Linked DNA regions of Homo sapiens: regions 2, 3 and 4 are each linked to region 1. The links come from fine-mapping of genetic effects on gene expression. A gene starts in region 1. Each other region holds a variant in brackets. All regions are shown on one strand. Distances are between the middles of the regions.

Evidence for each region.
Region 2: its variant is fine-mapped to the expression of GAPT in whole blood (INTERVAL, PIP above 0.99).
Region 3: its variant is fine-mapped to the expression of GAPT in whole blood (TOPMed, PIP above 0.99).
Region 4: its variant is fine-mapped to the expression of GAPT in whole blood (TOPMed, PIP 0.95).

Annotation. Positions count from the first base shown.
Region 1 is chr5:58,489,881-58,492,568 of GRCh38, reverse strand. It overlaps GAPT (GRB2 binding adaptor protein, transmembrane), which reads right to left and starts at 1,134. Exons shown (of 3, transcript NM_001304431.2): 1 at 1,028-1,134.
Region 2 is chr5:58,285,858-58,288,545 of GRCh38, reverse strand. No RefSeq gene overlaps it. Among named protein-coding and RNA genes, the nearest start is that of LINC02101, 160 kb to the right of the region's middle. The variant T/C (reference allele first, on the strand shown) is at 1,282.
Region 3 is chr5:58,459,135-58,461,806 of GRCh38, reverse strand. PLK2 (polo like kinase 2) reads left to right here and starts at 1,721. Exons shown (of 14, transcript NM_006622.4): 1 at 1,721-2,117. The coding sequence starts at 1,848. RefSeq lists a silencer at 1,224-1,403. The variant A/G (reference allele first, on the strand shown) is at 1,651.
Region 4 is chr5:58,632,075-58,634,762 of GRCh38, reverse strand. All of the region lies in intron 2 of RAB3C (RAB3C, member RAS oncogene family), which reads right to left. Among named protein-coding and RNA genes, the nearest start is that of RAB3C, 50 kb to the right of the region's middle. The variant T/A (reference allele first, on the strand shown) is at 1,302.

The DNA of each region.
Region 1 (2,688 bases):
TTTTAATCTCCTTGGAATTTTTGGGAGTAATATTGAGGTTGAGAACTGTATGGTCCGCCACATAAGATTTACAATCTGCAGGGTCCCTCCTTTATAAGGCCAGCCGTGCTTGTGTTCAAGGACAAAAGTTTAGCCAAATGACTTTAATCATTAGGACCTCATTTCCTGTCTGAAACAGATGAGCACCAATTATCTGCAAGATATTTTATGGTATACATGGTTAATGATTTAAGAAGTTATTTGCCAGAATATTTGAAATAAATTTACAAAATACACTTTAAGTATTGATTGAAATTAATCAACTTTTTGAAAGATACTAGGCCTGCAACAGAAGTCACGGTGAGGGTTGAGGAAGGCTAACTATTGTCACTTCTGTAGCTGAGGATAAGGCAATAAATTACTCTCTTAATTTTTAAGAAGAAAAGGCATTTTTACCATCTATGTTATTCTATGTAGAGTAGAAATTCTGGTACATCCAAAATATTAAAATTGTTTGTCTAAGAGATATTTACCAAGATAAAGACAAGAAGACTTTTTACAGAAAAAGAAATGCATCATTTTCTTCGAAATAACATTAGAGGAAAAAACCTGTGAGACATGAACAAAGACCTACTATAATGAAAAACATATTTTAAACAATAACCATTCAAATATAGTTTAACACTTAAATAATGTTCACTTTGACCAGTTTGAAAGAAGACTCTGTTTTCATTTTGGAAAGCAGTTCCAACAGGTTACCTAACAATTTGACATTTTTCTTAAAATCGCAAATTGTTGAGAAACTTCAGGAATTTTCAAGTAAGAGAATGCCCTGCTGTTTGGAAACAAGGTAACAGCAAAGCATAATCATATTGTAAAGAAACATTAACATCACTCTCAGTTTGTAAATTGGGTTTCCCCCTTACAGCTACGTAAGGCATTTTTTTCTAAAAACTGTAGTAAGATAAAAATCATTGATTAATTAAAGACAAACTTGTTTCTTATAGTGTTTAATCATCCAAATACCTTAAATCAGGTTCTTACTTACCTCAAGATTGGTGTGTCAAGCTCTCTCTTTTGTTCTTTTGGTTATGTTTTAAACCTGCATTGGGTTAGAACTTGTTCCTCTTTTTCACTTTGGTGGGTTACTTCCTTCTTTCCCTCCTTCGTTCACGCTATTTAATACTTGCAAAGTTTCCTGGCTCTAGAGGAAGTCAGTATCAGATGCAGCAGAATTAAGATAAATGGCGTGAGGTTTTGAATAAGGAAGTCTGGCCCTTCATCTTTGTCAAGTAATAGTTTTTTAACTGTGTCAGAAAATAATACGTAAAGCCTACATGGTTTTTTATTTGGGCCATATTTGCAGTTCCCACTTTAATATCAATAAAAGTCACTTCACTTGTACTTTGATTTTTTAAAAAAAGAAATATTTTAATTGTAGTAACACATAGGTCTTGGGCTTTTATTATTATTATTATTATTTACTTGTGTTGCTAGACCAGTCCTCTCTTCAAATATTAATATTATGTACCAATGCTCCCAAGTTATAGCCATACAGGTCAAATCAGTGTCCCAATTTGGGTTTGGAAAATGTTAACGTTCTTTTAAATTTATAAATAGGAATTTCCTAAGGTATGTTTTGAGGCCCATTACCCCTGAGATATGCTAGCAGCTCTTCCATCAAGTAAATGTGGGGAATACTGCTTCCCTGGAGATTCATGGGTACATCAGCATGCTAAAGGCTCTCAGCAGTCTTACAGCCAGCAAACAAAATAAAACCAAATAAGAAAAAGAAATTGTTTAACTTTGCTTAATAATAGTAGTCAGTATGTTCCTAGCACTAAGTACTCCAAACCTTTTGTGTAATACTCAGCAAATCTTGGCAACAACCCTGTGAGGGAGAAAAACTGTTATTAGTCCTATTTTACAGAAGAGGAAACAGAAGCACACAGAATGATCACTTGCCCGACAGAGCCTGCAGTTTGCCCCCAGCACCTGTGTGCTAAACCACTGCACTGGCTGCCTTGCTAGATTGAGTAACATGTTTCCCACATAGATACGCTTACCAAGAGCATCTCTTGGAGTCCAACTCATGGGAACACACACAGTGGGAGATGCTGAATTAGACAAATTACAGATGAATTCGACAGATGAGATGACAAAGTAATGGAAAATTTGTCTTTTAAGTTGTCTTGGAACTTTTTGAACCACAGAGGATTAACTTTGCATAAGGTGGTTTTAAAAAAGAGGATTTAGTTACTGAAATAACTACTGGACATTGGAAGGACAGGACGTATTATTAACACTTGCTGAGCACTGACATTATGCCAGGCATTGTGCTAAGAGATGAGGATGCAAGAGTGAATAAGCTCCCTGCAGCACTTAAAGCCAAGTAGAGAGGCTGCTGCGCCCACAGAACATTTCAGATCAAAGTGATAATGCCTAAGAAAGACAGGATTATGGACAGGGACAGTGGAGGTAAAGGAAAGAGGCATCCAGCTCAGAGGGTGGTCAGGGAAGGCAAGACCTGAGCTAAGCCTCATAGAATAAGGTGTTAAGGCAGAATAGGGGTGTCCTGGACAAAAATCTTACAGTGAAGGAGGTTATGAAGTTGTGAAGCTATGAACTTGATGTGCTCCACATTCTCACCACTATATTTAACTTCAGTATTAGCCACCCCTCCAAATAATATACACACTCACCTGCCTA
Region 2 (2,688 bases), 200 kb after region 1:
GTTCGAGCTTCCCAGCTGCTTTGTTTACCTAAGCAAGCCTGGGCAATGGCGGGCACCCCTCCCCCCAGCCTGGCTGCCGCCTTGCAGTTTGATCTCAGACTGCTGTGCTAGCATTCAGCGAGAGTCCGTGGGGGTAGGACCCTCCAAGCCAGGTGTGGGATATAATCTCCTGGTGCCGTTTTTTAAGCCCGTCGGAAAAGCGCAGTATTTGGGTGGGAGTGACCCGATTTTCCATGTGCTGTCTGTCACCACTTTCTTTGACTAGGAAAGGGAACTCCCTGACCCCTTGCGCTTCCCGAGTGAGGCAATGCCTCGCCCTGCTTCGGCTCATGCACAGTGCACGCACCTACTGGCCTGCGCCCACTGTCTGGCACTCTCTAGTGAGATGAACCTGGTACCTCAGATGGAAATGCAGAAATCACCCGTCTTCTGCATCACTCACGCTGGGATCTGTAGACTGGAGCTGTTCCTATTCCGGCATATTCTATTTCAAACACTGAATAAATGTTACTAGAGATTTTTAAGCAAATGCATTTTAGCTGCAAGGTATAGCAGAGACAAACTGCATGGACAGTTGACAGAAAAAAATGTTTGAAAGAAATAATAGTCTAGACAAAGAAGACGTTAGAAATTTGAAGGAAATCAGTGAAATTAAAGCCAATGAGATTAACTGGGAATGATGTGTGAACAGACTTGACTGCTGTTCTTTGTAGTTTCAGATCGTAGTAACAGAGGTAGCCAGCTTTAGCAGAGAAATTGATTAGTAAATTGTATGTACCAATTACTACTTATTTCCTTTTGCTACATATATGAAAACCTCAAAGAGATAAAGAAACAACCAAACAAGATTATATTAACAATGCCAAGAAATGTGACACTTTATTTTTTAGGCAAGAGGGAGCCATTAAATGTTTTTAAACAAGAGAGTGACATGATCTTTGTCGTACTTTAGTATAGAATTATTTGAAATGGTGTATACGATGCATTGAATGGAGGATATTCTGGATGGGCAGTTCAATTAGGGAATTGTTGCAATGATTCAGGCATGAGGTAATGAGGGCCTGCATGAAAATATTTAGCAGAATAAATGGAAAAGGGAGGATTATGTAGAAGGAGAAGTGACCAAATATGAACATAGATGTAAGGAAGTGAGTTTAGGGGTAAGAAAGAGGCCAAAAATATTTCTGGGATACTTTAGTCCCTATAGTGAGAATAATGATGCAATGAAAATAAAGGAAATTGCAAATGGGAGGTGGGAAGATTGGTGAGATGGTGGACTCA[T/C]TGTAAACCAGCTGCATCTGAGAGGTTGGCAATGTATGTTATCAATGCAACAGTTGGAAGTTTTGATGTGGAATTTGAAAAAGGATTTGGAAGTATAGATGTCAACCTGAGAATTATATGCCTAGAAGTAATATGTTAACCCATAAGTGCTGTTGAAAGCACCAAAGAAATGAATATTATGCAGAAAAAGAATGAAGTAAGAGTGGAAGAAAAATCTTTGGAGAATTCTTATCAGTTGAGAACATGAGAAAAAACAGATGCAAAGAGCTTACATTCCATTTTAAGCTTTAAAAGTACTTCCTCATGCATTTCCTAATTTGACCAACAAGATAACCCAGAGAGGGCAAATGGTAGTAACCCTGAGAAAAGAATGCCTAGATATGTCAAGTGACTTGACTAGGGTCACCCAGTAAGTGGTAAATAGAATCAAAACAAAAGTCCAGGCCTCTTGTCTCTTCAGCCGAGCACACCATGCTGCCTTCACAAGCCAGCATACCTCAAAGAGGCTCTTAAAATGAGAATTCCTGGGCCCTCAGGAGTCTGCAAGCTGTAAGTCTGAATAAAGAAGGCCTGAAGAGGGAGGAGAGGCCAAAGAGGCAGAGCTCCATGCGATTTCAGGAACATTACCTTGCTTACACACCAAACTTTAACCTCATACTTCATTTGCACATGGCGTTCCCCTAGCCAAAACCAGAGCAAAAATCACAGGCTCAAACATTCCTTGATGCCCTTGAGCTATTTCTAAGAGGAACCCACCCTCTCAATAGGATTGAAATGATTCTATAAAAACTTCTTATATTTTACTAAAGAAATCGTACACATTAATAAAAAAAGGAAGTGGGGGGCATTTTGTATATCATTTTTATCTCTTGTGTTGTGCTGTTCTAAAACAGTCTATGGGAGATAGCCTCAAGCCTGAGGGGCAGGATATCAATATTATATTATTCTAAAGAGGGCATAGCATGACATCTTAAGAGTTGAAAGGAGTTACTTTGCTTCTTTTGGCATATAACTTACAGAACATGGCCTCAATATTGAAGCAGAAAGGATCCTTGGATACCGACATCATGCATCCCAAAAAGATTTTCAATAGGATAACAAAACATACGCATACATAGAAATATTAGGTCACTTCCCTGGAATGCATGAGATGCATTTTGAGTTTTGCCAAGTGATATGTTTAGGCTTTGTGTCCCCACCCAAATCTCATCTTGAATTGTAATCCCCATAATCTCCTCATGTCTAGAGAGGGACCTGGTGGAAGGAGATTGGATCATTGAGGCAGTTTCCCCCATGCTGTTCTCATGATAGTTAGTGAGTGAGTTCTCTTGAGGTCTGATGGTTTTATGAGGCAGTTTTTCCTGCTCTTTCTCACTTTCTCTCACCTGCCACCATGTAAGACATGCC
Region 3 (2,672 bases), 31 kb after region 1:
TTTAAGATAATTATTTTGAGAACCAGCAGACCCAGGAAATGCTCTAAAAATGGCATATTACCCTTTCGTAAGGGAAACGTACATTCACTAAAAAAAAAAACAACAAAAACAAAAAACAAAAAAACCCCACAAAACTCCATTTGTAAAAGTGTCTCCTCTGTACCAGGAAGAATGACTCTAAATCATGAAAAACTTATCAATGAAGAAATAAGAAACCCCACTCCTGTTTACCGTACATTTCCTGGTCATGATTCCTTAACTTGCCTGCCCCACTCTTTTCTTTTGGTTTAGCTAAAGATAGTATTTAAGCCCGATTTTAAACCATCTCTAATTTTCCTGGTTATCTCCCATGTATATATGAGACGTATATGTTAATAAGCTTCTTTGTTTTCTTGTTAATCTGTCTGGTTACAGCGACCCAGGCCAAAACTTTGAAAGGTGGAAAATTATTTTTCCTTCCTTACAATATTTCTCTCAGAATTGTTGTAGGATGAAATAAGGCATTTAAAAATACTGCACAGTCCTCAATAAATGTTACTCTATCGTAATTAGAACAAGAAAAACAAACAAAAAAACGTGTTCCTAGATTAGTCAAACTGCACAGCAAAATCTGGAAATGGGAAACTAAGCTGTGTTTGCACTCACTGGCCTACGCTCCTCTCTTCATCCTACCAATCTCCCTACCCCAGAAAGTCTCAGATTGACTCTCCAGGAACCAGGGCAGCTCATGAGCCATCTCAACAGATGCATTCGGAAGAAGTCATAGATGACTCTGATTGGAAACTCACAATCGGCATCGATGTTTAGTACTAGTAACTGTCAAAGGCCCACGGTTGTCAACCGCTGCCCACTTCGACACCTAACGGCATTCCGGAACATTCCACAAGATGGCGCCCTTGCTTTCCAATCTTCGGGCTACGGGCGGAGGACGCCTTGCCAGGACGCCGACCTCGCTCTGCAAGGTTCAGGGGCCGACCTCAGACAGAGGCTCGCTCTAGGGGCATGGGCGGGGGCCAGACGGGCCTCGAGTGGGATCCTGGCACGGTTGGCCGATCGGCCCGGGATCCCGGCTGCGGGCCCGTGTCTGCCCTAGCGCGATGGGCTCGAATGCCCGGCTCCACGAATCCCGGCCTTTCACCCCCACGGCCTCTCGGCACTGCCCCAGCTAGACACCAGCGAGCTCGTCACAGCGCGGGCAGGCACTGCGGGGCAGCTGCAGACGAGCCCTGTCATACGGCCGGAGGAGGCCTCGCCTGCCCGTGCGGCGGGCTCCGGGCACCCTGATACCTTGACACAGGAGGCCCCGGGCGGCCGGGAAGGGCTGTGCGGGGGAGGGACTGCGTCTACACCCGCGCCCGACTCGCTCGGGTCACGGCACTGCCCTGCCACCAGGCGGCTGGGGCGGGGGTGAGGCCAGGCGTCGGCCCTCGCGATTCTGTTTTGTACGCTGAGGCTCGGAGCCTTCGAAGAACGGGACAGCGGGGCCCACGGACGGCTCTGAAGGCCTTCCCGCGGCCGCAAGAGATCTCGGCGGCCGGCGTTTGAGGCGCGCGGCTCCGCTGGGAAGCGAGACCCGGGTGGCGGGACAAGACTTGCTTCCCGGCCACGCGCGCTCGGCCGGCCGTGGGGCGGGGCATAGGCCGTGACGTG[A/G]TGTCGCGTATCGAGTCTCCGCCCCCTTCCCGCCTCCCCGTATATAAGACTTCGCCGAGCGCTCTCACTCGCACAAGTGGACCGGGGTGTTGGGTGCTAGTCGGCACCAGAGGCAAGGGTGCGAGGACCACGGCCGGCTCGGACGTGTGACCGCGCCTAGGGGGTGGCAGCGGGCAGTGCGGGGCGGCAAGGCGACCATGGAGCTTTTGCGGACTATCACCTACCAGCCAGCCGCCAGCACCAAAATGTGCGAGCAGGCGCTGGGCAAGGGTTGCGGAGCGGACTCGAAGAAGAAGCGGCCGCCGCAGCCCCCCGAGGAATCGCAGCCACCTCAGTCCCAGGCGCAAGTGCCCCCGGCGGCCCCTCACCACCATCACCACCATTCGCACTCGGGGCCGGAGATCTCGCGGATTATCGTCGACCCCACGACTGGGAAGCGCTACTGCCGGGGCAAAGTGCTGGGAAAGGTGACAAGCGGAGGGCGCCGGGCTGCCGGGCGGGCGGGAGGTCTGTCCGGGCGACCCCAAGCCGGGCAAGCCCGCGGGGTCCCTCGCCCGCCGCTTCCGGGTTTTTCGGGGGTCCGATCCCAGCGCGAGGTGGGCTCCTCACCTGCCCTCTGGCTTTTGTGCGCCGGCAGCGCTGGGGATCGGCTTTGCATTCTTAGCCTCAGAACTGTGTGTCTCCCGCAGCCCAGAGAAATGCATCTTGAGTCTGGAAGCGAGGGCTTTCTACATCAGACCTCTCTCCCTCTATCTGCTCCCAGGGAATTTTCCTGACAAGTCTCATCAGAGATTATTTTTCATGTCTCCCCGTTCCAACTCCCTCCATAAAGCTCCCCTTTATAAAAGAAGAAGAGAAACTGTTTGAACTTGCTGTTTCCAGCAATGCATTTCTCTTCATGAGGGAGCTTTAACGAAGTCGAATGCCTCCCTCTGTCCACCCTCCTCCATTCCTCAATTTTTTTTTTTTTGCTTTTCTTTCTTCCCATTTATTTATTTATTTAAAATATCTGCCGTCCATTT
Region 4 (2,688 bases), 140 kb before region 1:
AGGCATCTTGCACAACTTTCTATTTTTCTCAAGGAGAGAGTCAGGGAGGTGTGACCTGAGGTGGTGATGGTGGGGCACTCTGATTTAGTAGTTTTATATTAACAGGGGAAAGTTTCAAAGTGGCAAAACACAACTTTCTGAGATTGGATGTTGAATTTTTTCTTGGTCTAAGCCACAAATAATAACAAGAACTAATATTTCTTGAGTCTTACCATTTATGAGGTTCTGTGTTAAATGAATTGCATGTTTTATCCTGATTATTCCTCATAACCATACTATAAGGGAGATATTCTAATATGCCCATTATACAGATAAAGAAACTAGAATTGAGAGAAGTTAGGAAGCCTCTAGAATGGAGCTGATTCAGCATTTGAACCCAGACAGTTTGACATCAGGGCCTGTGCTCCTAACCAGAATGCTACACTTGCTTCTGGAAGGCAGAGTTCTCCCAAGTGATCTTATTTCCCTGTATAATATTTCTTTAAACTTTTCAATGGTGTGAATAAATATCCCTCAACCTGAACTCCTGAAATAATGGGAAAGAAGAACAGTGATGATTGTGAGAACTAAAAATATCTAAATAAAATTTAGGAGTACAAACAAACAATTTTTTTTTTTTTTTGAGATGGAGTCTTGCTCTGTTGCCCAAGCTGGAGTGCAGTGGCGCAATCTCAGCTCACTGCAAGCTCTGCCTCCTGGGTTGACGCCATTCTCCTGCCTCAGCCTCCTGAGTAGCTGGGACTACAGGCACCAGCCACCATGCCCGGCTAATTTTTTTTTTTTTTGTATTTTTTAGTAGAGATGGGGTTTCACCGTGTTAACCAGGATGGTCTCAATCTCTGGACCTCATGATCCGCCCACCTCGGCCTCCCAAAGTGCTGGGATTATAGGCGTGAGCCACCACACGTGGCCCAAACAAACAAATTTAACAAGTAAATATGTATAGGGTAAACGAGCATGATCATAACTCTGTTAGATATTACTATACCCATTCATTAATTCAATATGTACTGAGATCTCCTGTGGGCCAATAATGCTAGATGCTGAGACTCCTGAATTAAATAATGTCCAGCCCATAACCCTTAGGAGCCCATATAACTTAGTGGAAGAGGCAGTTAAGAAAAATCAAAATCTGAACGATAGATTATTCATGTATCTCTTAATAATATGACTTTTATTCAGATATGGAAAGTTTTAACTGTTGGTCTCATCTCAATTTTTTTCTCTTCTCTACCTGGAGAGAATGTCCATATTAAATGTTTTTCCTGGCACTATTTACTAATGAATCCTTATCACACAAA[T/A]ACACAAGTTATGTTAGAGTTACGGCAGATTCCCTGTGGGCTAGATGTCTTTACGTTTGTGCCTCCCCCTCTACTTTCCTTCCTATAGTCTAGTTTTAAGAGACTTTATGGGCTCTTTCCATAAGATCTGCCATCTCTAAAGGGGCTTACCCCATGGATGGAGTCTGCCAGAGATGTGTCTGTAGGTTCTTCTGCCCTCATTCTAAAAGATGTTGTAGAGCAATGGTTTTCCAGGATGAGCCCTCTCTGCCTTCCTCTAGGTAAGGGGTTGGGAAGTTGAAGAAATGAAACCGTATGCTTCCTAGCCTGCTGAAAACAGGTCAGTTCCCTCTAGTCATTGGAATTTTCCATATGCCTTCCTTTAAAGACATGACTCCATGACATAAAAAGAAATTTGCAAATCACTGTGGGAAATGCCAAAAAGCTTAAGGAGACAAACATCTCTTTGGTTGAGACAGAGATAGTATTAGAACCTCCCATTTTGCTTCATGTCCAGTTCAGAGACTAGAATAGAAAACTGAGATGAAGGTGAATGGAGAGAAAATGCTTCTAAACTTCAATAGCTAAGAATGTAGTGAATAGGAGGAAAGAGAAAGAATCCAAAGCAAAGTTAGCAATCAGACAGAAGTGGGACTGTATTCAGTCATGGAGAGAGGGAAGGGGATGGTAATAGGCTGGTAGGGAAAGAAGAGAAGGGGATGAAAGAGCAAGTAGAACCATTGTCAAATACAGTATGTCAGAAGCTCTTAAGCTTTGATGCTATTCTCCAGGCACATATACCCTCTGTCCACAGCCACTCGAAGAATAGGCCTACAGCCTGCTGCCATATTTGGGCCAATCTAAGACTGTTATCTGGCTACAGAAAACAGAAGGAGGTCTGAGAAAAAGACCTTGGTCTGCCCCTTCCCCGATCCATCATCAATGTTTATAGACTGAAGTAGACCTCCCTTCAGCCCTCCGTGAACAGACACAATATGACAGGATGAACTGTTTCTCAGAATGGCAGTTATCACCTGGGAAGTTTATTAGAAATCCATATTCCCTGCTTCTGTTTACAGAGAGATATGAATTCAGTAGGCTTGACATGGGGTTCAAAATCTACAGTTATAACAAATTCCCCAAGTGATTCCGACAAGGGACTGACTCTGGGACCACACTTTGAGGTCTGTAGAGACCATGGTTCCTATGTTAAAATTATTGACCAGACACTCCTCTGGGAGACAATGGTTCTGATAAACCCCAGCGTAAAAAACTGTTCACCCAGGCTTCTAGTTTCTACAGCCTTCTTTGTCTGGTTGCTTTCATATGTGAATCTCTCTCATATTGTGAGATCAGGCCATCTGCAAACTTGAGTGCCTCCCAACTGTAGAATCACTTTCATGTGTCA